Homo sapiens: one gene and its partners. The protein of the gene in region 2 interacts with the protein of the main gene of each other region in a biochemical or structural test. Each region holds a gene or a part of one and is shown on either strand. Other genes may lie near its edges.

Region 1 (8,445 bases), on a different chromosome or scaffold from region 2:
TTTAGTAGAGACTGGGTTTCTCCATGTTGGCTAGGATGGTCTCAAATTCCCGACCTCAGGTGATCCACCTGCCTCGGCCTCCCAAAGTGCTGGGATTACAGGCGTGAGCCACCATGCCTGGCCAATCAATGCTAGTCTTTTTTTTTTTTTTTTTTTGAGATGGAGTCTCGCTCTGTCATCACCCAGGCTGGAGTGCAGCGGCGCGATCTTGGCTAGATGCAACCTCCGCCTCCCAGGTTCAAGCGATTCTCCTGGCTCAGCCTCCAGAGTAGCTGGGACTACAGGCGAGCGCCACCACCCCTGGCTAATTTTTGTATTTTTAGTAGAGATGGGGTTTTGCCATGTTGGCCAGGCCTGTCTCAAACTCCTGACCCCAGGTGATCCGCCCCTCTTGGCCTCCCAAAGTGCTGAGATTACAGGCATGAGCCATCCGGCCCAGCCCAATACTAGTCTTAAAATGACTGAAAAAAGAGTACAAAGAAGAAAAATAAACTCAAAGTTTTTTTTTTTTTTTTTTTGAGACACAGTCTCACTTTGTCACCCAGACTAGAGTGCAGTGGTACGATCTCGGCTCACTGCAACCTCTGCCTTCCGGGTTCAAGCAATTCTCCTGTCTCAGCCTCCTGGGTAGCTGGGACTCCAGGCGCCCACCACCATGCCTGGCTAATTTTTGTATTTTTAGTAGAGATGGGGTTTCACCATATTGGTCAGGCTGGTCTCAAACTCCTGACTTCAGGAGATCCACCCGCCTTGGCCTCCCAAAGTGCTGGGATTACAAGCATGAACCACCACGGCTGGCCAGGAAGGAATGGTTTATTCTGGGAGTCACCAGACTCTTCTCAGATTGAACTCACTGTCTCTCTTGCTGGCTGGTCATGAATGGGTGTCCCAAACCTGGCAAAGCTCTTTGGCTGATTCTGTTTTGCCCAGTTTAAAATGAGGTGGCTTAATAAAGGGGCTAAGAAGTGAGTAAGAGGGTAAATAGAAACCTTCTGATGCGTCTGACTTCTAGTTAATGCTAATGGATGTCAGAGATCCTCCCTAATCTAGGCGGAGGTTGAAGTTAGCCAAGATTGCACCACTGCACTCCAGCCTTGGCGACAGTGAGACTCCGTCTCAAAAAAAAAAAAAAAATTAAAAAAAAAAAAAAAAGGAATACTCCCTAATCTATTCCATGTCCTAATAATAAGTAGATCAGACTTTAATGTGACTCACCGAAGTTTCAGATGATCGAATACAAGATTACATTTAGCTTAGTTTAAATAATGGAGATGGAGTGAAATGAAGTAATAGGCTATAGGCCATAGGGAATGCAGAAAAACAGAGGAGGGTACTGATCATTTCAGACTCGGGAAAGACTCCTACTGCTGTCCTGTAAGCTACAGATGACAAATAAGAGGGTCCGTCCTAGGCAAACCTGCAAGATACCACAGACAGACTCATCCACAGCTAGGCTTAATTTCAAAACATTTCTCCAAGGATGTCCTGAAACTGCAGGGGCTCTTGGGTTTCCTGGGCTCCTTCTCGGAAAGGTGCCTTTCACTATTGTTTACGGTTCAAAGTGGTATCCTTTCTTTTTCCTCTTGAAGCAGCCAGTATTTCTGGGCTTTTGTAACAGGTAACAAGGTTACGGAAATGAAGTTAATCTCAAAGGACCCTTGAGAGTTTACTGAGGCCCCAGATGCTAGCCTACTAGACACATGGAACATTTTAAAAAATTTCCAGGACCATCAGCCAAGAATCATGCAGCATTTAATAAAAATAACTTAATAATAGTAACATTATTTTTTGATAATAAACCAGAGATTTTATCTCCAAAACTATACCATTTAAGGACATTACCTTGCTCTCAATATAAATTACTAAGACTGAGAGAGAAACTTTCAAGATTTGGACTCTTAAGAAATTTACTGCTCCTTAACAACAATAAAGTGAGAAAAGAGAAGCTGTCTCTTTCCTCTGGGGCTGGAGATGATTATGAAAGACATGCATGGTCTTTCCTGCTGATTGTTACAGAGTGCCAGCCCCCCACCCCACACCAGAACTCGAGGTCTGCCTGCTCAACAACAACGAACATGCCATGCAGACAGATACGTGAGCAAAAGGAACAATAATTAAAGAACAGTAACAAAAACCTCCTAAATGCTAGTTAACTTTTAGTGTTATGAAGACTCTGAGCTCTACAATTTCTACTTTAAAGGTTTTAAAGTATAAAGTTAGATATATATAAAACCAGAAAACCATGAGCTGAAGGCAGACTGAAAAGCATCCAGGTAGCAGTGGCTTCACACAACAAAAAAGACATCTTTCCTTTTGCTCTATGTGTTCACTCCAAAACAACCAGCACCTAGCACTTACCTCCTTGTGAGTTTTGAAGTTAATTTACTAAAGAGATTAGTGGAGCCTCGGCTTCGAGTCTGGGACAATGGTGTGGCTTCATGGGACAGGCTGGGAGAGGCAGGAGGGCCATTATATGTTGCGGTTCGCCGTTCCCGGGGCTGGCCGTGGAAAGTGCTACGACTGGCAGTGCCTCTTGGGAAGCGGATTCGATCTGGGGTGGCTGCACTACTGATACTGTGTGTTGAAGCAACTGGAGTTCTCTGATCAGGAATAGTGCTATGAGATCAGAAAGTAAGAAGCTCTCAGAACATGATATACAAAAATTTACAGTCACAATATACCTTTTATACACAGTGGAGAAAATCGGGTATAAAAAATCCAGATCCAAGGGGTATTTTATAGGACTTAGGAGCAAAAGGTAAGTTAAGTGGGAAAGGGTACCAAAAGAACAATACATAATGAGACAAAGCCTCATGGAGTTTAAGGGACCAGTATTATATATATTTTCAAGGACAAGATTAATGCAGGGAAATTCTAGGACAGAGAACAGCTAACTCAAACTTTTCCCCTTTGCTTCCCTCTCAAATTGCTTACATAGAGAACTGTGCCAATACGAAAGAAATAAAGGATATGCTGGCGTAACTGAAGAACAGGCAACTAAAAAGTTTTGGAAGTAAACAAATGATATATGTATAAAATTCCACATGCTGAAAGCAACTTGGGAGGAGCAGGAACTTCTTATACATTTTGTAGTACGCGAAGGCACGAAGACACACAATACACAACCGAGGACATCATGACAAAAGATGTGCTTAACTAAAATCACATGGAGGAAGGACGCCTTGTGGACAACTGTAACAAAATCTCAGACTATAAAATCCACAGCACAAAATTAAGAAGCAGTGGGTACACATTAGTTTCACAAAGAATGTGCATTTTTCTTACATAGCCTTGAAGTTATCTCCTTCACTGTCTATTGGAGGTAACATCATCTTGGGGTGCCCAGAGGCTGACATGGACATCGACTTCTGATGTCTCAGCCGACAGGTAGATGTACAAACTGAGGCAGGGCTAGCTGCGTAAGCGAACATTTCTGTCAGGCTGGGAGGGGTTTGGGTTCAGGCAGAGGCAGAAACACAGTATGAAGGAGCAGTGACCACAGAGCAACCTGTGTGTAATGCACACACCTTCCTCCCAAGCCATCTCATTTCTGGTAAAGAATAAAAATCTCCTAAGCTTGTTTTGGAGATTCTGGAGCAACTGCTAACCTATAGTTGCTTTTTTTTTTTTCCAAACAGTAATCATAAAAATCTATTACCTTAAAATAAAATAGCAGATTACATGTTTGAATATCTGTTTCTATGAGAGGGACAATGTCCTCTGAGGGTATGCACAAAATAAAACCTATTCTAAGAGATGCCTCAATTCAAATCTAAGTGGTAAAATGAATATATAATATGAGCATGCTATGCTCTCAACCTGTTCCCAAAACACACTGACATATTTTATTTTTTCTTTATTTATTTTTTTTGTAGAGACAGGGTCTCGCTATATTATCCAGGCTGGTCTTAAATTTGTGGCTTCAAGTGATCCTCCCGCCTTGGCCTTCCAAAGTGTTGGGATTATAAGTGTGAGCCACCACACCCGGCCCGCACTGATGTATTTTAAATGAATTAATAAGATTACAGGTATAGGAACTAGCTGTTATATAACAGTATCCTATGTTGTTTGGTGTTTTTTTGAGACAGGGTTTTGCTGTCACCTAGCTGCAGTGCAGTGGTACGATCATGGCTCAATGCAGCCTCAACTTCCTGGGCTCAGGTGGTTCTCCCACCTCAGCCTCCTAAGTGGCTGGGAATACAGGCGCACTCCACCATGCCTGGCTAATTTTGTATTTTTAGTAGAGAGAGTTTTGTCATGTTGCCCAGGCTGGTCTTGAACTCCTGGGCTCAAACGATACGCCTGCCTTGGCCTCCCAAAGTGTTGGGATTACAGGCATGAGCCACCATGCCCAGCCTTCCAATGTTGTTTTAACAATATAGTCTAGAACCTTCCTAATCAAAGGACATTTACTCCAAGATAAAAAACAGTCAGCAGAGCCCCCTTCTCCAAGATGGGCAAATTCATCAGAGCAAATTAACTGTTAACAGACATGGTAAGATAGAGTGGCTGGAAGTCTGCAGTTTCATCTAACACACACAGTTACCGGACAAAACTACCCCCAGGAGTCTCACTGGGACACATTATTTGGAATTCCAGCTCAGTAATCATGTCCTTGGAATTCAAGGGCAGTTTCTTTCCTTTAAGGATAAGTAGGAATACAGCTCTTCCAGTGTCTTTCTGCAGAAATCCTTTGGAAGGATTAAAACCTGGAAACTGGCAAGTTCTTCCTTTCCCTCACTCCCCATACACAGACTAACGACATCTTATTGGTGTCAACTTCCTAGTAGCTCTTCAGGTGGCCCATCTGCTCCACTTCTACCAGGGCCTCAGTATAGAGCCTCGCTCCTTGTCTTCACTGGGTCCCCTGCCTTTGCCCCAACACCTCCAATCTATTCACCTTACAGCTGAGAACTTCTTAACATATAAACCAGATCTTGTCACTCATCTGCTCATACTTCTACAGAACACCAAGTCTTTGGTAAAAAGTTCAGTCTCCTCGACTTGGAGTGCAAGTACACATCCCCAGGCCCCTGAAGTCTGGCCCCTGCCATCTCTCTAGGCTTTGCCTTCTATCATTCCCTCCTGGAACTCAACTTTCTAGCCTTCCTGATGATGTGTGGTCCATTGGTCAGGCACCAGGTCAGAAAATGTTTGCAGGAGTTATTCTCTTGGTATGGAGGGCTGGGATCTTTCTATTCACTCTTCAAAAATGAACCAGATGTCGTCATCTCTATGAAGTGTTATCTGATCCATTTTCCCTCTGAGAGTTAAATCACTTCTGTTTTTAGCTCATGCATGCCACATTGTATCCTAGTGACCCTTCTCTGCTGGAGGTCCCTGAAAACACAGCCCAAAATCTTGTCAATGTGCCCCCCACCAGTGTAAGCAGAAAGCCTGGCAGGGCAGGTATTCAACAAACGTTCTCCTAACAGAGCAGATTAATCAATTAGCAACTGGAATTCTGATAGCCCCAACATAAAGCAGATACGTCTTTAAAATCAAGAACTGCTTGTCCCTGAATTAAAACATTTTTATTTAAATTTTTATTTTTGGAGACAGGGTCTTGCTGTATTCACCCAGGCTAGAGTGCAGTGGCACTATCACAGCTTGCTGCAGCCTCAACCTCCTGGGGTCAAGCGATCCTCCTATCTCAGCCACAGGAGTGTGCCACTATGCCTGGCTAATTTTTAAATTTTTTGTAGAGATGGTGTCTCACTATGATGGCTAGGCTGGTCTTGAACTCCTGGGTTCAACTGATCCTTCTGCCTCAGCCTCCCAAAGTGCTGGGATTATAGGCCTTGTGAGCCACTGTGCCTGGTTCTGTCCCTGCATTTTTGTTTGAGAATTCTGCTCTCTGACTTGGGAGAATTTATACAGTCTGAGAAGGACTGGAAACAAATGTCTTATAAAGGCAAAAATTTATCCAGTTTCGTATTTCTGCCACTCAGTATCCATTCTTTTCCTGCAGCAACAATAATGAGATTTTGCTGTGGTGGAAGTAACTCTAGGCCCCACACAGATCAAGGAGACCACCTGAGGGCTTCTGCTTGAGCACAGCTGTGTGTGGGAAGAAGTTATGTCTGATGGTGCCGAGCCCAATCATGGAACTACGGCCAAGGAGGCAGAAGCAGATGGACCGTAACTCTAGCCCTGGACTTTTTTTAGTTATATGAACTAACAGCCCTTTTATATTTAAGCCTGTTTAGACTGGGTTTTCTGTCACCTGCAACAGAGACAGTTCTAACTGACTAAGGTTTTTAAAGAAATGCTCGGTTGTTTCTTGTACATGTGTACAGACACACGTACACATGAATGCACACAAATGTTATTTATTTTTTTTTTTTTGAGACGGAGTCTCACTCTGTCGCCCAGGCTGGAGTGCAGTGTGATCTCTGCTCACTGCAAGCTCTGCCTCCTGGGTTCACGCCATTCTCCTGCCTCAGTCTCCCAAGTAGCTGGGACTACAGGCACCCACCACCACGCCCGGCTAATTTTTTGTATTTTTCGTAGAGACGGGATTTCACCATGTTAGCCAGGGTGGTCTTGAACTCCTGACCTCGTGATCCACCCGGCTCAGCCTCCCAAAGTGCTGGGATTACAGGTGTGAGCCACCGCGCCTGGCTACACAAATGTATTTTTCTAACAAGATACAGCTAAATACAACTATCTCTTGTGCCCTTACCTTTCAGGGTGAGTCCAGGGTCAACACACTCTACCTCCAGTTGTTGACTTTTTTCTTGCCCAAATTAGGAGCTAGTATCAGTAGATGTGCCAAGAAAAGCAGGGGAAGAAGATGCAGGAGTTGTTTGACCCTTTCCCTGGTGAATACAAATGGTCCCAAAGTCTTTGGAGAAGGAAAAGGCTTTTAGTCAGCTTGCAGGCAGGAGGGTGCTGCATCGATTCCCAATGAAGCACACTGCTGACAGGCCAAGCTAGATCTTTAAGGCATACAAGCATGGTAAGAGGGTGTGGACAGATGCTTTGCAGAAAAAAAATGGATCCTCTAGAGACCTAAGAAGGAAATGTAAATTTATTTTCTCATTATAAATTAAAAAAAAAAATTTTGTAGAGATAGGGTTTCGTCATGGCCCAGGCTGGTCTGGAACTCCTGAGCTTAGGCAATCCGCCCGTCTTGGCCTCCCAAAGTGCTGGGATTATAAATTATTAACTTGAGGCTGGGCGTGGTGGCCCACGCCTGTAATCCCAGCACTTTGGGAGGCTGAGGCGGGTGGATTGCTTGAGGCCAGGAGTTCCAGACCAGCCTGGCCAACATGGCAAAAACCCATCACTACTAAAAATACAAAAATTAGTTGGGTGTGGTGGCGGGCCCCTGTAATCCTAGCTACTCAGGAGGCTGAGGTATAAGAATCGTTTAAACCCGGGGGTGGTAGCTGCAGTGAGCTGAGATCATGCCACTAAACTCCAGTCTGGGTGACAGAGAGAGACTGTTTCAAATTAAAATAAATAAATAAATAAATAAATAAACTTTTTGACATACTAATTTTAAAGGCAATTAAATAAACTTTTTAGAAATTTAATCCATGTCACATCATGAGTTTCACAAAGCAAGCAACAAAATATTTCCGATTTTTCTGATTTCTACAGTAGGCCTAACACCCAGAAGGAAACAGTAAACTCAGTAAGATGTTTGCAAATTTCAATTTTGTACAATCAAGCTCACAAAAATCCTATTTACAACAGGCAGCCCCAACATCACAATGGTCTACATATATATTCTAAAAGGTCATCAAGCTAATTGTTATGAAATTCGAATAATATTTCCCCCCAGAAAAGTGTTAAAAATGATAGTTTTATTTCCTATTCTAGCCCACAATCTACATAAGCAAAACAGTAGCAGCATTACATTTTTTTAATAATTAAAAAATTTTTTTAAAGTTTTTGTGGGTTCATAGTAGCTGTATTACATTAATTTTTTTATTTTTATTTTTTTGAGACTGGGTCTGGCTCTACCGTCCAGGCTGGAATACAATGGTGTGATCTCGGCTCACTACAACCTCCATCTCCCAGGCTCAAACCATCCTCCTGCCTCAGCCTCCCAAATAGCTGGGACTACCGGCATGTACCACCACACCTAGCTAATTTTTGTATTTTTAGTAGAGATGGGGTTTCACCATGTTGGCCAGGCTGGTCTTGAACTCCCGACCCCAGGTGATGCACTTGCCTCGGCCTCCCAAAGTGCTGGGATTATAGGTGTGAGGCACTGTGCCTGGCACCCAGCTAATTTTTTTGTATTTTTGGTAGAGATGGAATTTTACCATGTTGCCCAGGCTGGTCTTGAACTCCTGGGTTCAAGCAATCCTCCTGTCATGGCCTCCCAAAGTGCTGGGATTACATGGTGGCGTGAGCCATCATGCCTGGTCTACATTTAAACCTTAATTGATAGAAATAGCAATGTTTTTCTTAAAATTCAAGTTGCATGAA
Region 2 (8,664 bases):
AGGCCAAATTTGTATCAAGAGAGTAACATTACTGAAACCAAAATAGCTAGAGAACAGTAAGTCTAACATCCAAATGTCGAATTAAAAAGAATGATGTGAAGGGAGGGAAAATATGGTGAAATGATCAAAATACAGTCCTTACATGAAAAGGTCTAGATTGAGTAGATAAAGGTAATGGCAATAGTAAAGAGATAATTAAAGTAGCAAAAACACTTGATATATCTGAGAGAATCAGATATGACTCAAAGAGTTTATTAGCATCTTTAACTAATCTATAACAGAGACAAAAAAATTTGAGATTGTTTCAAAACTGTTATCTTCAGGTTCATGCATTTACTAATGACTTACCTAAAGTGACTACTTTTAGCATTAAGGAGGATAGTATTGATCTGGGGGTGGTGCTATCTTCTACTGTAACTATTATTTCAGATTCTTTATCTTAATCTGTTAAGAGGAAATTAAGTATTGAAAGGATTCAATAATCAGAGTTACCAACTTGAATACTAAAATCCCCATGTCAGTTTCATATGGTCAGTCTCAAAAGGACATCAATGAATCACTGAAGGATGCACCTATTGTCCTATAAGCAAATGTAATAATGATTTTTTAAAATGCCAACAGTGCAACTACATTTGTTAATAGCATGTCCAGTCTGTTGTCTAACTGCTAGTAAAATTCAATACAAAATATGTGTGTGTGATAAGAAAATACACAAAAATACACCAACATTTTTCTTCCTTTTCCCTTCTGATGTTTAGAAAATTTGCGAACTGGTTTAAACCAAAAGGGGTAAAGGAATGAAATTATTCCTTCAGGCTTAGAGGATTCTGTGCCAAGTTTCATTTCTGGCTACATATTTCTAACCAAGTTCAAGATCCCTGAAAAGGAATACATAAAAGAGAAAATATCCCTTTAACCTCAGTGGAATGACATTAGTAAAGGCTGCTATGGGAAGAGAAAGGCTTTTGCCCTGAGATGGGTGTGCTCCTGGTGTTTGGTTTCCACTGAGAGGATGCCTGCTCTCTCAATGAATCTGAAGTACCTACTAGGATGAGGTAATGGCTGTGCCAGTTTCACTGGGTCATGCTCTTTCAGCACATTCTTTCCCTGTCTCCTCCCTGAGAAGGTGCTGTAAACAAGTCATCCTGAGAGGTGCTGCAGAGAATGAACAATCCTAAATTCAAAATTCTTGAAAACACTGGCCCTCCTATGGCAGTATAGAAGACTAAAGCAGCCATAAAGAAACAGGTTATTTGATTAGAAAAGGGAAAAAAATAAGAGAGGAGATAAATAAAATAAAAATTAATATAACTAAAATATTATTTTATAAAAGGTAGCTCTATTTTTAAATTACTTAGATCTTCAGATGTGTGTTAAGCAATTTTCTACTTATGGTTTTAAAAAAGAAAACTTTGGACATTAAATAATATTGTAGCAAACTGTAAAATATGAAAAATTAAAATTAAATAAACCACAGATAAACAGCATGTACCACTGATCCTAAAGCCACAATGGCTCTGATAATATACAAATCATGAATGCAGATGTACACCTATGATAATCAGATGAAATTACCAGGAAATCAACATAAACATACACACACAAATATAATAATCCTTACTGAATGAGAAAAATGCCTTTTTTCTTGAAGGAAGGGTTCTTTGTGTGCATGGGGCTGGGGCTTTTGGAACATCCATGATTTGCAAATTCACAAGGATTTCTACCAAAATACACCTATTGCCCGGTTAAAGGGCTGCTTTGTGTTATATTCTGATGGAAGGCTGTAATCTTTTCCCTGGGCATAAAATTAAAAGCATTCTAAAGGGCTTCTATTTATTCAATCTATTTGACTGCCAAAAAAAATCATAATTGTCCACAGTGAAATGACATAGTGAAAGAACTATGCTTTTGAACTGGGCTGGTACCTGCAGCTCATGCATGGGACATTTTGCATAATGTGGCTCACATAGAAGGCTTTGTTCTCCATCGCCTCACTGTGGCTGCAAACCTCAATTTCAGTTTGCAATCATTTCCTTTTCTAGACTGATCATTTTAAAATAAATTATACCTTTAACATTTAAATTAGTTCCTTACCAACAGTCATCAATCCCTTTGCCTCACACCCAAAATTATATACCACCCAACAATATTTTTTTGTTTTGCACTACAGATTTTATTCACAACATAATTTCCAAACCCTCAAATACAATTTTAAAAAATCAGTCTCTTAAGTACCTATTTCCTTTTGTAACATGTATATAGTGTATTATACATTTGTGTGCATACTTGTGTGTTTAGGCATTTAAACAAAAACCCTTTACACCGGACTCAATTTTAAAGCGTCTATGTCCTGGAAGCATTGTGCTAAGAGCTTACGACAGATGGCACACAGCAATTGTCACAAACGGGCTTGTTGCTAATGAAAGCTTTTTATTTTCTGACAAAAATCCTGAAGTCCGGATGCCAGGCAGAATAACATTAATTTCCAGTTTTCAAGGATTTTTTTTCTGACTCCATCCATACCCCTCCCCCTATACACACCCAAATATACAGCTCCCCACTCCTAGCCCCCCACACACTCTTTCTTGAAATTTCCATCCTTAAACAAAAGACGAGGTGGGGGAAGGCAGGCAGCCAGCACTGCAGTCCTCCTCTCCCCACCAAAAAAGCCTTTTAAAAAGAAAAGGAAGAAAAGAATAGATGCACTGTAGATTCAGAGGTCCACCCCCAACGTTTAAAAAGAAAAACGACTGTGTGGAAGCCTAACCAGACTCATTTCTTCGTGCCCCGCCCTCCAACACCACCAGGCATTTATTTTTCATTTTCCTACAATTATAAATATCAGTCCTCCTCTCCCAGCTGTTTCTGAAGGAATTACAGAGAAACATGATTTGAAATGGACAAGGCTTCCCTCACTCACTCACTTCCCAGTGTGCAGTTCTCTGCAGCTGGATGAACAAAAAAATCCCCTACCTCGATTTCCTATTTTCCACTATCTTTGTAGAATCCACTCCCCTTCTTTCCACAGCGCAGGTAATACTGGCTTTCGATACACGTATTCTAACCTGGCGTAAGTTTTCAGTTGTTTCAAAGTGGTACCTAACAAGCTCACTCGCTCTTCTACGAAGCCAGGGCTCAGGTACCAGTAGCGTCCGGCCCCCTGCTCCGCAGTGACACCTGGAGAGGACAGGCCCGAATCTTCCGCCAGGTGCACGGCTGGCCACTCGACCAACTACCAGACTGCCTGCTGCGAGTCCCAGAGGACGAGACACAACCCCTCCCCATTCCTATCTCTTTCTACTCAGAGACCGAGGCAAAAGGAGAGGCGCCCTACATAGAGCCAGAGGTGGGGACGGTCTCTTACCTGGGCGCAGAAACTGGATGCACCCGCGGTCGCGACTGCCACCGCTCACGGACTTAGCGCCCTCCGGAGAAAAAGGAGAGGGGTAGAAGGGTTAGGGGAAGAAGGGGAGGGGGGGGAAAAAGAAGGAGAAGGAAGAGAAAGAAGCGGAAGGGAAGTAAAGGAAGAGAGGATGCTGCTGCTGCTGCTGCTGCTGCCCAGAGCCCGCGCAGCCCGAGCGCCCGCCCCAGACTGAGAGCGGCGCCCCCAGCCGGCTCCCAGCGCAGCAGCTCCGCCTCGGCCCCTCCTCCCCGCCCCGCGCAGGTCCCGCCCCGCGCAGGTCCCGCCAGACTCCGCGAGCCCGTGGGCGGCCGCGGCGGGGCTGGCGCTGCCACCGCCGCAGTGTCCGGGAGGGGGAGCACGACCGCTTCGCCTTCTGCCGCAGCCGCCGGCCGCCAGGCGGGGACCGCGAGGTGGGAGCCTCGGAGAGCCCCGCCCAGCCGCTGGCCCGGGCCTTCTCCAGAGCCCTGGTCCCCTCCCGCGACAAAGTGAGGCCAGTGCCCGGGCGGCGGGACAGGCGGGCCTTCCTCACTGGCGTCCTTGGAAAATCGGGGGCAACAGCTTTAGTCTCTCGGGAGCAACCTCCGCAGACCCCCTGCTTCCCTCCCCTGTGTCGCTATGAGGCGGGGTTGCCAGTGGCACCTCACCAGGAAAGCTCACTGGCCTCGCCTCACAAACCCAACCACAGGTGCATCCAGAAAAGACAAAGGAATGTGGGGCGCTTGAGAACATAGAACAACTCTTGTCAGCACTAAAGGAGCAATGGCTGAGGGAGTAGAGAATTCTAGACCCAGCTCTGTCACGAATTAGATTCATTCATTTATTGAGTCAACGAATGTTTATTGACACCTACTATGTGTCAGGCACTCTTCTAAGCATTAGAAACATCAGTGACAGACCTTTCCCACAACCCTAATAAGAAAGATCCCCTCCCTTTATAGTTATTACATTCTAGATAGCCAGACGTATGCTCTAGAGACAGTTCACTTAATCTAACTCTCAGTGTATTCATGTGTCATATGAGAACTAAAAATGACAGCCCAATTCTCTTATGCTTAAAAAGATAATGAATATGAAGGATCTTTGAAGAATGATACAAATACAATGAATTAGAAAGCACGGAAAGTGTTGACCTTGAAATATCACCCTTAAAAAAATTGCCTCTTAAATGCTTTTGAAAGTGAAATGACCACCTGAGAAAACAAATGATTCTTTACCATTCGTACTAAGGAGTATGAATCTTCATAATCAGAGAGCAGCATTTTATTGTAAGTAAGAAAAGTAAGATGCAACTTAGAATTACTTCGAGTGTCTATATCAAGTACTGACAAGGTGTTTTTAAGGTCAGCCAACATACTGAGGTGTGGCTTGTACAGTCTTCACAGTGCTGATGAAACAGCAGCCATAATGTGGTTCTGTCACTTAAATTAACCACAGAATCTTAGAACCTAGAACATTAGAGTTGATGTTTTAGGCAGCTGGTCTAATTTCCTCCATTTTCAGATGGAAAGAGACCCAATGGTGGGAGCCTGCAAGGATTAGAAACCATCACAGAGGAAGCTGTGAAAGCCTGCCCTCCCCAGTCACACCCAGTGCTCTGTGTCCTGCCTCCCCCGCTCTGCTTCATACCATGTGCCAGTGACGCTTGCAGTGAGTTTGGAAGTATCAAGGCACACCCAGGAGCTGGGAGGTTGGAGGAGTTGATGCTCCTCCTCGGAAGATGGCCTTACTGAGAAGGAGGTCTTAGGAGACTAGGAAATCATAGACAGTATGTGGATGGGAGGAAGGAGTAGGCATGCTACCAGAGTGTTAGCAGCTGACATTCATGACCAGGCATGCAGGCGCAGGTGCTCAATGAGAGTAATTTTCCAGGGCCAGGAGCGGTGGCTCACACCTGTAATCCCAGCAGCTCAGGAGGGAGTATCGCTTGAAGCCAGAAGTTTGAGGGTGCAGTGAGTTATGATTACACCACTGCACTCCAGCCTGGGTGACAGAGTGAGACCCTGTCTCTAAAAAACAGCAATAAAAAAGACATTATTTCTCTGATAGTTTAAAGTACAGTGTTCCTCAGCACTTTTTGTTTTTGTTTGTTTGTTTGTTTGTTTGTTTTTTCCTCCACTTTAAGATTAGCTGAGGCAGCCAAACTCTAATGGCTTTTCTCTTTGGGGAACCTGGTCCTTATATGGGAGATTGCCTCCTCTCGACACACATCTTAGAGTTCTTTCAGAAAAATAGCATCTATATGTTGTAATTCAATAGAGAGAATTTAATATGGGGAACAAATTACAAAGGATTCAAATGACTAAAAAGCCAACTAGGGGATGATGAGGCAACACGATGATAGTTACTAGCAGGAAAGTACTACCACTCTCAGGCTGGGGAGTGCTAGAGAGGAGGCTTTACCAGGAATGAGGAGCACAAGCTACATTAAAGGAACTGAGACCACAGTGGAGATGCTTACTGGGAGACAGATAATGCTGGAGGGTCCTCCAAAAGCTGAGAGTGAAAAGAAATATTGTGGCCCTCCTTTAACCTGTATTTCAAAACCCTGTCATTGGGTGAACCTAGAAGAAAGTCAGTTGACAAAGCAGCCTAAGAAATACAGTTTGCAGGAGTCAGTGCCCTGGGATGTCAAACAACTTTAGGAGGGGACTCCATATGTTTAGGCTTCTGGTTTAAGGAGGGATCTTTGTGTTGAAGTGAACTTTTTTTTTTCCCTCAGCAAAGCATCCCTTCCTTAGAGTAATGATCCTTTTCATATGATTCCCCATATGCTAGTAAAATGTGTGCCTCTCTTCTCTTTCTCAGAGGTGGACATGTGACCCTGGCTAACTCTATAGTAGAACCTGTTCTCCTAATGTATAGTGATTGATACAGGGTGGTCATATGTCCCAAATATTTCCAATCAGGCTTTTTTCCATGAGATGTGTCATATGAACAATAGTGAATCGGATGGTATAGGTATAGAGTTGTCAGTGACTGTATTTCCTTCCATGCAGAAAAGCAATGCTGAGAGATGGAGAAAGAACACTTGAAAGACTCCATGGATCCTGCTACGTCTCAAGGTAGAAATGCCATTTTTCAAGCCAATAGATTTTTGTTTCTTTTCTAAGCTTGCTGTAGTTGGATTCCTGTCATTTTCAACTGAAGAAGCCTTGACTAATACAGTGCTGGACTCCAAAAAGTAAACCACAGATAGAAAGAGCCTGCCAATATTGATTTCCACAATTACTTGTCTTGTCTTCAGGCTAAATTCTTGATTTGTATTTATTTGGCCCGGAGGATTACGTACATAAACAACCATACCCTTTTCTCAGGGACAGGACTTCTGATAGTTTCTCAGTCAGAAAACCATCAGAATAAATGTATTTCTACTGATTAGAGAAAGGTCTACTGGTATATAGGAAGTAATGAAACCTTCTCCCCAGAGAGTCAAGGAGTAGGTGAGCCTTTGAGGAGGTTGTACTGCATAGTGTTAAGAGCACCAGACTTCAAGTCAGATCTGAGGGCCCATATTTGCTGTTCCCTGCTTGTGTGACCTTGGGTACATCTCTCTACCATTTTGAACCTCAATATTTTTATTAGCAAATGAGGAGACTCAACCACATGCCACCTAAGGTCACTTTAGTTTTATAAAGCTATGAGAAATTATAGCTCAGCTGAGGATTTGCTTATTAAGTTGATGAACATTAATTAAGTGGCCCCTAGAGAAACAATGAGCAAGGTTCATACATACACAAACAATGCTGATACAATGTGCAGCCCATCATAGAAAAGATGTGGATGCAAGATGCAGGTATGACACTGAAGAGCAGACACACATAAGTCTTTTACCTTCTATGTGTGAAATGGGCTTTTTGTGTTTTGTTTTTAATTTCTTGACCTTTTCTCTATGGATGACTAGAGGCACATCTATCAAAATTTCTATCATGTTTCACAAGTTTTGACCATTGCAATGGCTTTAAAATTTAAAAATGAGCTTTGTAGTATGGTCTCCCATTTCCAATTCTATGCCTAGTTCATTGAACAGGTGGTGAAATTACCATTGACTTCTTCTGGACCATAAATGTATCATTCTGTTCAAAAATTTTGTTGAGGTATAATTTACATTCAGTTAAAAGCACAGATCAGAAATGTTCAATCTACACCTTCAGCCCCAACCCATAGAGGTAACTACACTTTTGATTATGTTTCTCTGTGGCTTCACTTTGCATATTCTTGGAATTCCTATAAAAGGATTCAGACAATATATATTATTCTACATCTGGCTTCTTTTGCACACATATTACTTTTGAGATGTATTCTTTATTTTGTAAGTTATCTGCAGTTTATTCCTTTTTATTGTTCAGTAGTATTTTATTGTATGGATATACCATATTTTGTATATCCATTTTCTAATTAGTGGACATTTGGGGTTATTTTCAGTTTCTGCTTGTTAGTAATAAGGTTGTTATGAACTTTTATATAAGATTTTTTGTGGATATGTTGTTGTTTCTTTTAGTCATATACCCAAGAGCGAAATTTCTGGGTCGAATGGTAGATATATGCTTGACATTTTTTTTTTTTTTTTTTTTGAGACGGAGTCTCGCTCTGTCGCCCAGGCCGGACTGCGGACTGCAGTGGCTCAATCTCGGCTCACTGCAAGCTCCGCTTCCCGGGTTCACGCCATTCTCCTGCCTCAGCCTCCCGAGTAGCTGGGACTACAGGCGCCCGCCACCGCGCCCGGCTAATTTTTTGTATTTTTAGTAGAGACGGGGTTTCACCTTGTTAGCCAGGATGGTCTCTATCTCCTGACCTCATGATCCACCCGCCTCGGCCTCCCAAAGTGCTGGGATTACAATGCTTAACATTTTAAGAAACTATTGAAGTATAAGTTTTCAGTACTGCTGAGTAGACTTTTACTAGACCTTACCATCCCCCAGATAACATCTCCTGTAGGGGTGAAACAACCAAAACCAGAAAGCACTGGAATGTAAACAAAACAGGCATATTTTAAAGGGGAATCAACGCTTGGAAGAAGGAATGGCACATTCAATGCCTTTTAACTTGAGAGAAGATTGCACACAGTATTGCCAGGGGCAAACAGTCATAGAAAAATTACAGTTTTCCTGAAATAGAGTATAGAGTTTGGGACAATGTCCTGAGATGGAAAGTGAAAATAGAAGACTGAAAAGAAGAGACACTGGAATAGTCCAAATTTCTAGGTATAATCTACGCACAAATCTCCACTTTATCCCTGAATCATGTGTATATGGAACAGATTC
Region 3 (4,603 bases), on a different chromosome or scaffold from region 2:
ACTAAGTTTAGCAATTCCCTTTAGGGGGTGGATTTTTAGTGAGGACATGAGTATCATATGTGTGTTTTCCATTCAGCCATTTAGCCTGGACTTCTAAAATAAAGCAGTAAGGGTATTTCAGGAGATTTTGAATTATGAATCTAGAATGGATCTGAAATGTCCACCACTGAACCCTTGTGTAGATAAGCAAATTGAGGTTGGGCAGGAATGGCCAATGTTCCATAATAGTGCAAAGCTAGGACCCAGGATGGACTCTTGATTCTTGGTTCTTTGCTCTTTCTACAAGAAGGTATGGACTAGACTGGGACTTATTATTGAACACTCTTGACTTGCCAGTCATCTTGAAGGCATTTTAATCGATGGGGAAAGTCACTCATTAAATAAATATCCACTGTGCTTCTACTATGGCAGGAACTATGCTGGATACTGGGGCTAAATTAATGAGCAACAGAGATCTGATTCTAATACTTGTAAAGATCCCACTGTAATGGGGGAGGCAGACATTCATCAACTGATCACACAAATAGATGCTAATGGCAAGAATCAAAAAGCCTACAAAGTCTTATGTACATATTTCAAAGAATTTGACCCACTAGAAGAGGTCAAGGGAGGCTTCCTTTAGAGAATGACATTTAAGCCTAAATCTGAAGGGTCAGTAGGAACCGGCTGGGCAAGGCTGAGGGAAGGAGAGAAAAGATGAGTGCTCCAGAAAAAGGAATCACCAAAAATCCTGTGACAGATGGGAGAACAGAATACCAGGGTGACTGGAGTGCTGGAAGTGGAGGGAAAGGGCTGTACAATGGGATGAGGTTAGAGAACTAGGCAGGAGTCAGCACTAGGCAGGCCTTGAAGATCACATTTGAGATTTTGGTTTTCATATTAAAAGTGGGAAACTATTAGAGGGTTCTATTCAGGGAGATGCCAAGATCAAAATTTTCTTTTTAAAAGATTAGCCTGCTGTAGGGTGCTAATTGAAGGAGACCAAGAGTAGGCCCTGGGAGAAGGGTTAGAGTGGTGGCAGTATAAATTGAAAGATGTGGAAGGATTTAAGACATTGAAAGATGTGGAAGGATCTAAGACATGGAGGTGTTCTCACTATAACTCTGTGATAGGTTAGTGTAGAGGGGCAGAGGAGAGGTAATGGGAGGTAGGATGTCATTTAAGGAGTCCATTTAATGGAATCAGATGATTATAGAGAGGGGATCATTCATTAGGAGAGGGAATACTGAAAGAGAACTGCAGGTTAAAAGGGGCACTGACCACAGTACCAAATTTGGGGAAATGTTAAAAAAGACTTTAAGCTCAATTTAGGTTTTTTACTATTTTATTATGGCACACAGGATAGAGGATGGTACAGTTTTCTTACTTCAACCAAGTAATTCTCAAAGCATCCAGCTATTTCCATTTGGCTAAAGTTACTTTTTGCACATAGCTTGCATCTGTTTGAGACTTACCATGTACATCAACCCAGGTCTAGTAAGCAGAAATGTGAAAAGTTTTGTTTCTGAGGAGACGCCTCATCTTTACAGAAGCCAATACACTGAGAGCCTTCATAGTTCCAATCCATTACCATCATGGCAAGGAAGCACTTTACCTATTTGCATAGCAACATATATTTAACTAGAAATAGGTGGTACAAAGGGATTAAGTAACTTTAAATGGAGACCACTTTGGTTTCAGGTTAAATTAATAACTTATAGAGATCGTCTAAAAAACAAATATTGAATGAAATTAGCTGACAAAGCAATTGTTTCAGAACAAAGGCAGAATAGCAGATAGTAATATCATCTATATTTATTCCACATCAAATGCAAGAGCGTTCTTAACTTTACGACAGAAAGGATACATGGGGCGTGTATTTGATGCAATGTCCAACCAGTCAAGCTATCATTGAAATCCAAATATCTCCCAGTAGAGACATGCAGAGCAATGTCAATGTAACATACAAGCATATTACCTCCCCCCTTAAGTGACTCATAATTTCATTACTTGTGTCTGTAGCTTTTAAAGGTTTAAAAATGTGTAGCATTAAGTGGTATTTACTTGAGGCAACAGAATTACGCTTAACAACACACTAAATCATGAGCTCAGGATTGCAGGCAACATGTTTGCAGTGGAGTGGCAAATAACCTTTGGTAGTTTTAATCCCTTCTCCTGAAATTATATATAGATAAAAAATTATTCCTTCTTATTGTACCATGTTCTCAGGTTTTAACCTCCTCCCATGATATTTAGACTATATTTTAAAATGCAGTTATAGGGATGAATGTATGGGATTCATATTCTATCCATATTGCATTGTGACATATCAGTTTGAAATGACCTATTTATCATGGTTCCATAGTGTAATGGTTAGCACTCTAGACTCTGAAATGACCTGTTTACCATAAAGAGTGTATCTGTCAAGTAATTTCAGAATTGCTCCCTAGAAAGCCATCCCAAAACCTAACACAACACGTGTTATGAGGCAAAGTCTATTGTTATTTATAGACTTTCTCATTTACTCATGTTTATTATCAGTAAAATTTTTGTGGGGAGAGATTTCACAAGTAATCATGACATAACTGTATCCCTCAGAATTTCCAATTGAAGGAAGAAAAAAAAGTATTGGTAATTGTTAAAATTTCAACTTTTTAAAAAATTGGAGGTCAATAGTCCACTGGTATATACTTTATATTGGTGCCATCTTTAAGGTATTTTAATTAAGTAACAACCACAGCAAAAAATACATCATTCGGTATAACTTTATTTACTATTTATTGCACATAACTCAGGGTCTTTAATTGCTAACCACCGAAGGTTCAAAGGACTATTTTTCCATGAAGTTTAACATTAACATTAGTGAATTCATTTACTCATGTGGTGTTTTTTATTGTAAACATCTGAATGATTCACATTGCCGTAGATCCTGAACTCATAAGCGTGGTCCATGCACAGGCTGGCAGCAAGCCAGAAAGCCACTCTGCAAGCAAACAGATACTCTGCATAAAGAGGAAATTCATAGCACAACATTGAATGTCCAACCTAAGTCATCTCAGAATTATACATATATTGACTTTTTAATTCACATAGAATCTGGAACTCAACTGGTTGGTTGGTTGGTGATGGGGTTGACCTGATTTCGGGAGAATTATTCCTGAAATAATTAAGGAAATGGGGGTTCAATCTTTCTTCTTAGCTGCTTGTTCCTCCCCAGCACCTTCAACTTTCTTCTCCTCCTCTTCAGCTTCTTTGGTTTCCTCTCCTTCTTCACCTTCACCTCCTTCTTCTTCTTCTTTTGCTTCTTCAGACTCTTCCTTGGCAGCTTTAACATAAAAAGAAAATGTACAAAATGCAAATCCAGGGTAAGTCCAGTCAAAACATGTCTGCAAAGGTTTTATTTGCAAACACAACTGTCAGAATGCTACCAAAACCTCCCAGCTCCACTCTCTCCAAAAGCACATGTAACAGACAAAGCTTGCCATGAATAATTTGCCACTGAACACATATTTAAATCGAATGAGATCACTTCTAGGTATGGGAAGCTCTGCTCCTCTCCAAGACTTAACCTCAATATTTCTTTCATTATGTGTCTGGTATCTATTTTTGTTCTTTAGGACACCAACCTGCTGTGTTAAATGATTATATTAAAAAATGAAAATTTTGACCAATCACCTCATTCAGAGTAGATGCCTTAGGAAAGTTTTGCTAAACAAACAGAAAATTTATTTATGATTCTAATGTCATATATGAATAAATGAGCAAGGCTTCATTTGTCTTATCCACCTCCTAACAAATCTCCACACCCAGTTTACACTTGAAGTTGCAGGGGTTTTTTCTTATCATACCTTCTTCCTCTTCAGCTGCCTCCTCTTCCTCGGCCTCTTCCTTGTCCTTCTCCTCCTCCTCGGCTTCTCCTTCAGAGGGGGGCTCATCCTTGGCTTCCTCAGCCTTGGCAGCCTCAATGGTTTCCTCCACTTCGATCTGCTCCTCTTGGACATGGCTGGTGTAGTAGGACGGGAAGGAGCGGGTGGACATCAGATAGGAGCTGGTCTGTAAACCGCCGTAGGCAGATCGGCCAAAGACCTGGGAGCTCTGGGAGTAGCCACTGGTTATGCTTCCCACGCTGGTGAAACTGAGTCGGGTCTCCTCGCCTTCCAAGAGTTTCCTGGGGATGCAGATGCAAGGTGAGGTTAAAAAACACCTGTGTTTCACAACTTGCTCTGAGTACCCTAAACACAAAGGCAAGCAGGAGCAGGGCTGGGATTTATCAATACTTAATGCCTGGGGATCTTTTGATGGAGACCAGAAAAAATATAAATAAATCATCCTATTAGATTTAAAGTGTAATGACAAGATAAAAACAGGACTCCTAATTACAGGGTTAAATTCTTATATATCTAAATACCCTCTTCTTGGAAGAAGCCAAAAACTAACACTTCATTATTTCAAAAGGACTATTATTGAAGGTTTCTGATCCAACATAACTTTAAATGGGATCTGATTTTCTTCCTAAGGTTTAATGGCTGCTGTCTTTGCCCCTCTATTTTCACCTGTAAGCTGCAATCTCAATATCCAAAGCCATCTTCACGTTGAGGAGGTCTTGGTATTCTTTTAGGTATCG
Region 4 (8,445 bases), on a different chromosome or scaffold from region 2:
CCCGCCCCGGAACCCTAAACCGGGCCATCTGCTGCGGGCCCATGGCAACGGCGGCTTAGGTGACGCCCGCGGGCGGGACGGCGAGGGGGCGCCCGCGCCACCCCGGCCCCCTCCGTCTCGGCCGAACCCCCCACAGCCCCACTTTGCCCGGAATCCCAGGCGGCTTCACTGGCACCGCGGCGGTAGGCCCGGGATAAACGTGGCACCTGGCACCGCACCTGACGGCAGTTTTGGAAAAAATCGTCATGTTTTTTTCTATGTTTTCCATGGAAGGAAACACGAGGATGTTATGGACTAGAACGCGGTAAACTCCCGGGGTTTTTAAGACTAAAGGAGAGATGCATTGAAGATATTTCTGGCTCCCTGGCTGCCTCTGGGGAGTGAGGGCAGATACAGTTTCCTTCTGGGGTAAGTTTGGGGGAAAGCCCCTGAAGAGGCTATGTCCTCCTCCCGCAGCCCCCGAGGTCAAATAGCAGCCCACGTCCATCCTGCAGAAGAGGCCTTGGAGGCCTGGTGTGGGGTCCCCTGAACTCCCCAGGACAGCTGAACCACCTCGATGGCTCAGAGCTCTCCCTGCAATGGGCCAAGCTGGCCTCCTGTGTCCTAGCAGCCACACAGGGCTGGACACCAGGCGTCGGTCCACGCTGGGCTGTGAGCCAGAGGCCACCGTCCCATCCCGAGGGTCCGGAAGGCCCAGGCCCTGTGACTCCTCTCCCATTCCCTCCTTCTCGCCTTGCCCTGCCTATCTTTGTCCTCCTCCCCTCTTTCCTCCTTTTTCTTCCTCTTCTCTTTTCAAGGCCTCCAGTCTGCATTTGTGGCTCTCTGCATTGCCTAGTATCCTGGAAGCCAACTGCTCCCCAACGAATGAACAACGGCAGAGAGTGGGGGCGGGGGACTGGGTGGGGGGAATGGCAACGAAAAAGACGGTGATGCCTCACACAGGGCTCAGAGCCACCCAGGATGGGCCCAGTTCTACCCCACTCCCTGTCCCAGCCTTGGGAACCCAGGGCTCTGCTGTCCAGCACGAAGCTGACTGATCAGTGATTCCCACTCACTTCCTGTGACCTCTCAGGGACACCGCTCTCAGGAGAGGTCCTTCCCCCAGTCAAGCCGAAAACAGGCACACCTATCTCTCCCCGCCCATCTATAGCAGTACATTGGGACAGGACCCAGACCTCAGACACAAGGAAGTGCTGGTGGTGAGCTTCCAGGCATTCTACCACGAGTTCATATAACCGACCTTCACTGAGTACAGGTTCAGACTAAAGTACAGAGGACACTGTTAACAAGACATGTCCTCAGAGCTCCCAGCCTGGTGTGGTGGACAGACCCAGGCACAGATAAGGATGGTACCACCAGATAAGAGGCAGATCAGTCCCGGAGACATAGGATAGCATGGCCACTAAGAGTTTGGACCCTGGAGTCAGATGGCTTAGTTTCAATCCCAGCTCAGCCACTCACAAGCTGTGTTACCTTGGGCAAGTTCCTCAACCTCTATGTTCCTTTCTTTCCTCATCCGTCAGGTGACAAAATGACACTGCTTCCACGTGCTCGTGAGGATTTAACAGGTTAAGATGCGTAATGCACCTAGATTGGTGCCTGTTAGACCAAATGTATATGAGTGCCAGCCATGGTTAACTAAGGGAGTCGTGTTAGGGGTGACAGCTGGGTTTTAAGATTTTTTTTTTAGGCAGACATTAGGGGAAAGGGCATCCCAGGAAGAGGGAACAGCAAACTCAGAGAATCAGAGGAGAGAGGGAAGAGATTGTAAAGTAAGTCTGGCGGCTGGTGGCTAAAGAGAGGTCCCCTGGGGGAGACCCTGCAAGGTGCTAAGAACCTGACCTTGCCTGGTTCCAGAACGACTACTGAGACCACCCTTGAGCTGGAGGAATAGGCCTCTTCTCCACAAGTGGCAAAGACAGAGACTCTTGAAAGCAGCAACAGAGAGGTGACTCATTCTATACAACGAATCGTTAGTATGAGTCTCGGCTGATTTCTCATCAGAAACCACGGCGGCCAGAGGGCAGTAGGATGGCATATTTAAAATGATGAAAGAATAAAAAAACTGTCAAGAAAGAATTCTATATCTGGCATAACTATCCCTCACAAAGGAAGGAGAAATGAAGACATTCCCACGTAAACAAAAGCTGAGAGAGTTTGTCACTAGTTGACCTGCCCTATAAGAAATGCTAAAGATTAAAAGACATTGAACAACAACAAAACAAACAACCCATTTCAAAAGTGGGCATAGGCAGGAGTTTGATGGCACTACTGTACACCAGCCTGGGTGACAGAGTGAGACTGTGTCTCCAAAACAAACAAACAAACATAGGCATAGGACTGAAATAGACATTTCTCCAAAAAAGATATACAAAGCGACCAAAGGCACATGAAAAGATGCTCAACATCATTCATCATTAGGATAATGCAAATCAAAACCACAATGAGATACCACTGCACACCCATTAGGATGGCTATTACAAAACAAAACAAAACAAAACAAAACAGAAAATAAGTATTGGTAAAGATGTGGAGAAAATGGAACCCTTATGCACTGCTGGTGGGAATGTGAAATAATACAAATGTTGTGAAAAACACTATGGCAGTTCCTAAAAAAATTAAAATGAGAATTACCATATGACCCAGCAATTCTACTTCTGGATATATACTCAAAAGAATTAAAAGCAGAATCTCAAAGAGGTCTTTGCACACCTATGTTCAAAGCAGTATTAATTATAATAGCTAAAACATGGAAGCAACCCAAGTGTTCCTCAATAGATGAATGAATAAACAATATGTGGTATAAACATACAATAAAACGTTACTCAGCCTTAAGACGGAAGGAAATTCTGACACATGCTATTAATACAACATGGATGAACCTTGAGGATATTATGCTAAGTGAAGTAAGCCATCACAAAAAGACAAATAGTGTATGATTCCACTTATGTGAGGCACCTAGAATAGTCAAATCAAAACCAGAAAGCAGAATGGTGGTTGCCAAGGGTGGTGGGGAGAGGGGAATGGGGAGTTATTGTTTAATGGATAGAATCTTTATTTTACAAGATGAAAAGAATTGCAGAAATTGATAGTGGTGATGGTCACACAACATTGTGAATGTATTTAATGCCACTGAACTATGTACTTAAAGTGGTTAAATGGGGCCAGCCATGGGGCTCACTCCTGTAACTCCAGCACTTTGGGAGGCTGAGGCGGGCAGATCACCTGAGGTCAGGGGTTCAAGACCAGCCTGGCCAACATGGTGAAACCCCATCTCTACTAAAAATACAGAAATTAGCTGGGCATGGTGGCAGGGACCTGTAATCCCAGGTACTCAGGAGGCTGAGGCAGGAGAATCACTTAAACCTGGGAGGCAGAAGTTGCAGAGTGAGCTGAAATCACACCACTGCACTCCAGCCTGGGTGACAGAGTGAGACTCTGTCTCAAAAAAAAAAAAAAAAAAAGTTAAGTGGTATATGTTGTTATATGTATTTTAAAAAATACAAAATTGGAAAAAAAAATAGAGTACAGTAGACAGTGATGCAAAGCCATACAAAAAAATTAAAGAACACTGGTAAGGGCACTTACATAGATAAATAGAAAAGTCATATTTAACCAGGCACAGTGATAGGCGCCTGTACTCCCAGCCACTTAGGAGGCTGAGGCAGGAGGGCTGCTTGAGCCCAGGAGTTCAAAGCTGTAGTATACCACAATTGCACTTGTGAATAGCATCTGCACACCAGCTTGGGCAACACAGTAAGACTCCATCTCTTTAAAAAAAAAAATGTTGTATTTTTGGTCTGTAACTACTTTCTTTTCTGTGTGATTTAAAAGACAAATGTATAACATAATGATAAATCTATGTTAACTGGCACACAATGTATAAAGATGCAATTTGGACAATAAATAACATAAAGGGGGAGAGATAGAACTATAAAGGAACATAATTTTTATTTATTATTGAAGCTAATTTGGCCTTAAACTATATTGATGCAGATTTAAGATGTTATTTGTAGGCCAGATGCAGTGGCTAACACCTGTAATCCCAGCAGTTTGGGAGGCTGAGGCAGGCAGATCACTTTAGGTCAGGAGTTTGAGACCAGCCTGACCAGCATGGTGAAACCCTGTCTCTACTAAAAATAAAAAAAATTAGCCAGGTATGGTGGTGCACGCTTGTAATCCCAGCTACTTGGGAGGCTGAGGCAGGAGAATTGCTTGAACCCAGGAGGCAGAGGTTGCAGTGGGCCGAGATTGTGTCATTGCACTCCAGCATGGGCTACAAGAGTGAAACTCCATCTCAAAAAAAAGATGTTATTTGTAAACCTAAGAATAATCATTGAGGAAAAAACTTTTAAAATACACAGAAGAGTAAATGAGAATCAAAACAGTACTTTAGAAAAAAATGTCAATTAAACACAAAAGAGCAGTAATGAGGAATTGAGGAGGAAAAGATATAAGACATACAGAAAACATAGCAAAATGGCAGAGGTCCTTCCTTAACAGTAATTACTTCATGTGTAAATAGATTAAACTCTCCAACCAAAAGGTAAAGACTGGCAGAATGGATAAAAACAAAACAAAACAAAAACCAACCACATGATCTAACTATATGCTGCTTACAAGAGATCCACTTTAGATCCAAAGACACAAATAGGTTAAAAGTAGAAGGATTTCATGCAAATAGTATTCCATGCAAATAGTAACCAAAAGACAGTTGAGATGACTACACTATCAGACATAGATGTTAAGTCAAAATCATTACAAGAAACAAAGAAGGACATTATATTTTACTAAAAGCATCAATCCAACTGTTATCAACAGCCCACAAATTTATCTTCAAACCTCCCTCTGCCCACAAATCTGGGCCAAGTACACAGAGTCCCTACCCTGGCACCACCATGAAGCTGGGAATCATGACATACTGAAGCACAAAAGCCCTCCTTGTGGTCCTTAAAGATGTGAGTCAGGTGTGCCACACAGGTGCGCCACTAGTCAGCTGGGCTAGTCCTTCTTCCAGAGACCTCAGTCCCTGTATGTTCATGAGAGGCTGCTGCAGCTGTCTCATGGCCTTCCCTGTCCACCCTCTCCCAGGGAGGGCAGAAGGCTCTCCCATTCCCAGGTGCCCTCTCATCCCCGTGCCCCCTGGAGACTCACTGTCACAGTGCCTTTCCTAGGTTTCTAAGCTGTCTCCCCACATAGGTCTGGGAACTCCTCCAGGGCAGGGAATAGTAGGTGAATGCCTGCTCCTCCTGCCTTCAAGCAGGAAGTATGCTTCAGCTGCTTCCTTGGTCCTAAAAAGAACCCGAGCCCCGGGAGCCGACCCGCTCTGCAGTTCCACAGGCCGGGCCCAGTGGGCTCCATCTTGTGCTTTGCTGTTGAGTAAGAGGGCCTTGGGCACATTACTCAGCCTTCCTGAGCCTGTTTCATCATATGCAAAATGCAGATTAAAAACCTCTATCCACCTGGTGCGGTGGCTCACGCCTGTAATCCCAGTACTTTGGGAGGCCGAGGTGGGCGGATCACGAGGTCAGGAGATCAAGACCATCCTGGCCAACATGGTGAAACCCCGTCTTTATTAAAAATACAAAAATTAGTTGGACGTGGTGACGGGTGCCTGTAATCCCAGCTACTCAGGAGGCTGAGGCAGGAGAATTGCTTGAACCAGGGAGTCGAAGGTTGCAGTGAGCCAAAATCATGCCATAGCACTTCAGCCTGGTGACAAAGCAAGACTCTGTCTCAAAACAAACACACACACAAACAAACAAACAAACAAACAAAACCCCTGTTTTCCCACAGCTGCCATTGTGAAGCTAAAATGCCATTTGGGACTCCATGAAAATGCTTCTTCCTTCATCTGCTTCCCTGGACTGCCTCTCTCCTCCTCTCTTCCTGCCAGTTCCTTCCCTATCCTGAAAGATCCACGGGAAATGGGATGAAGGCTGTCCCTCATGTCCAGGGCTCATCAGGAAGCCCCAGGTAGGCAGAGAAAGGAGGAGGACTGTGGACCAGGCCCTGGGGTTTGCAGAGCAGGGAAGCCTCCCGAAGGAAGTAGAGGCTACACTGAAGCCTGAGCAGAAGTCAGCCAGGCAAGAGGGGAAGCCAAGCACTCCGTGGACCTTTCAGGACCGGGAAGGATGTGGCAGGAAGAGAGGAGGAGAGGGCAGACCAGGGAAGCAGAGGAAGGAAGAAGCATTTTCATGGAGCTCCACATGGCATTTTAGCCTCTCATCGGCAGCTGTGGGAAAAGAGGCTTTTAATCTTCATTTTACATATGAGGAAACTGAGGCTCAGGAAGGCTGAGTAACGTGCCCAAGGCCCTCCCACTCATCAATAGCAAAGCCTGGGCTGGAGCCCATTAGGCCCGGCCTGTGCAACTGCAGAGCTGGCCGGTTCCCCAGGGCTGGGGCTTTCTTCAGGACCAAGGAAGGAGCTGAGTGTACTTCCTGCTTGAGGGCAGGCAGAACAGGCATTCACCTACAAGACACTTGCTCCCAACAGAGGCCACCCACAGCTGGAGGTGGGTCAGCGTTCAGAGGGGCAGGAGAGGAGGGGGTGGTGAGGAGGTCCCATCAGCCAGAGGCCTGCCTCAGAGGCCCCCTGAGGGAGGACGCCCCTGGAGGGCTATGGGGGCCCAGGCCCTGGCACACAGCAAACACTCAGCGAATGGACTTTTCCTCTCCTAGATCCTGCCCATCTCTAATGGGCGTTTGAACAGGCTCTCAGGCCAAGGGGCTCTAAAGGGGGTCTCCTCCAGCCCCTGGGATAGAAGAATGTCTGTCCTGATGCTGCCCTGAAGCCTGCCTCTCACTCACACACACAGACACACACACGCGCACGCACTCATATGCAAACATGCTGGTCCGTGCAGCCTCAGGGTGGCCAGGCAAGGCTGAGCCATTGGCCTCTGGTGACCCTGGAGACCGAGAAGCTGCTGGCCAAGCCCCCATAATGCACAGCCCCACAAGCCCTACGGCCTGCTGCCAGGCCCACCTGGCTCAGGGCCCACATTCCTGGCTCCTGCTCTGGAGGCCAGGAGCTCATTAGAGCCTCAGACTGATCACGGGGAAGGGCTGAGGGTCAGAGGCCACTGTGGCCCTCAGTAGGAAGGGGGGCTGGAGGACTCAGCTCGGGCCAGCACCTCTGCTTCTTCCCATAAAATCCCAGGGGGCTCCAGCTCAAGCCTTGTCACCCCCCGCCCTCCAGTCACTGCTCCCCAAGGCCCTAAGAATAAGTTGGGCTCAGGGCCCTTCCTGGCCTGGCTTTGGGAGCCTTGCCAACCTCCTCTCCTCTTCCCCAGGGACCTTCCCACACCTGGGCCTTTGCACATGCTGTTCCACTGCCTGGGATCCAGAGATGTGTGTAAATAAACTCATTTCTGCCCAGTGGGGTGAGCCAGTGAGAGAAGGAAACCCCAGCTGGCACAGCAGAGGGAACAGGTTTCAGACTAGGCCTCAGCCTGGAGGGCTGGGTTTGGAAGCCTAGGCAGGAATTTTCCAAGAGAACACCCTGGGGAGGGTGTCCCACGGGTAAGCATATGGATGAGGGGATATGGCCTGGGGAGGACAGGCCACCCAAAGAGGTGGGAACACTGACCTGCTGAAGAATCACCATGGTCCCAAGTCAGGAGCTCCTGCTGCCCACTGGGCCAGGCACAGTTCTGCAGGGAGAGAGACCATGTCATGCTTCTGGGCAGGCCAGCCCTGGAAGCCTTGAGCCTGGCTGGGGTCACCTGGGCTCCTCCCAAAGCCCCAGCTCCTCCTCCCTCAAGGGAACCCTCCTTGGCTTCTCTCCCTCTGACCACTGCCCAGCCTGTGTGACCTGAGCCTCAGCCACTGTCACCAGCACCACTGCCCAGAGCAGCTGAATTCTTCTCTCAGCCACTGTCATTCAGAGATTCCCAAAGGGCTCCTAGAAAGTAGCAAGTCTGGCCCCACCAGGGACCTACGGCAAAGGGGCCCAGAGAGGGACCAAGACTTGCCCAGGGTCACACAGCTAGCCAGAGCAAATTTAGGACTAGGACTTAATCTCCGGCACTCAGCTTAGGGACTGCCCCAGGAATGTGGGTGACAAGGACAAGCCTGACTGAGCAGAAGGTCAAGGGCTGGGCATGACCTGCTCACAGCACACCCTGCCTGAAACCTCTCAAGAGCACCCACTGCCCTCAGGATGGCTCTGTGCAGAGCACTGGCTGCTGACGGGGAGGCAGGGTCATTGGGGTCTGTCTCTGGCTGTGCTGCTGAATGCACCGCACCTGGGCCTGGGCCCGGGCCCGGGCCCGCCCCGCTAGGCCCAGCACAATCTGGCCCCTGCTGATGCCTCGGTCTTTTCTCTCACTGCTCACTCCCTTTCCTACCCTTATACTTGGACATCCTCAGTGACTCACTGTTCCTGAAATACGCCAGCTCTTGCCATCTCCTGGCCTTCACACACTGGCCCTTCTACCTG

Evidence for each region.
Region 1: of the proteins of MAP2 (region 2) and MARK3, one has a biochemical effect on the other in vitro, tested with the Homo sapiens proteins (one study listed by BioGRID).
Region 3: the proteins of MAP2 (region 2) and NEFL form a complex in vitro, tested with the Homo sapiens proteins (one study listed by BioGRID).
Region 4: the proteins of MAP2 (region 2) and MYO7A form a complex in vitro, tested with the Homo sapiens proteins (one study listed by BioGRID).

Annotation. Positions count from the first base shown.
Region 1 is NC_000014.9:103,485,948-103,494,392, reverse strand, and holds part of MARK3 (MAP/microtubule affinity-regulating kinase 3), read right to left. Parts: intron 2,617-8,445; coding exon 2,359-2,616; intron 1-2,358. UniProt on the Homo sapiens protein: Serine/threonine-protein kinase. Involved in the specific phosphorylation of microtubule-associated proteins for MAP2 and MAP4. Phosphorylates the microtubule-associated protein MAPT/TAU. Phosphorylates CDC25C on 'Ser-216'.
Region 2 is NC_000002.12:209,418,977-209,427,640, reverse strand, and holds the start of MAP2 (microtubule-associated protein 2), read right to left. Parts: upstream 3,595-8,664; 5' UTR 3,365-3,594; intron 1-3,364. UniProt on the Homo sapiens protein: The exact function of MAP2 is unknown but MAPs may stabilize the microtubules against depolymerization. They also seem to have a stiffening effect on microtubules.
Region 3 is NC_000008.11:24,949,649-24,954,251, forward strand, and holds the end of NEFL (neurofilament light polypeptide), read right to left. Parts: coding exon 4,533-4,603; intron 4,220-4,532; exon of another isoform or gene 4,148-4,219; coding exon 3,828-4,147; intron 3,305-3,827; coding exon 3,162-3,304; 3' UTR 1,307-3,161; downstream 1-1,306. UniProt on the Homo sapiens protein: Neurofilaments usually contain three intermediate filament proteins: NEFL, NEFM, and NEFH which are involved in the maintenance of neuronal caliber.
Region 4 is NC_000011.10:77,129,801-77,138,245, reverse strand, and holds part of MYO7A (unconventional myosin-VIIa), read right to left. Parts: intron 7,658-8,445; 5' UTR 7,612-7,657; coding exon 7,594-7,611; intron 34-7,593; exon of another isoform or gene 1-33. UniProt on the Homo sapiens protein: Myosins are actin-based motor molecules with ATPase activity. Unconventional myosins serve in intracellular movements. Their highly divergent tails bind to membranous compartments, which are then moved relative to actin filaments.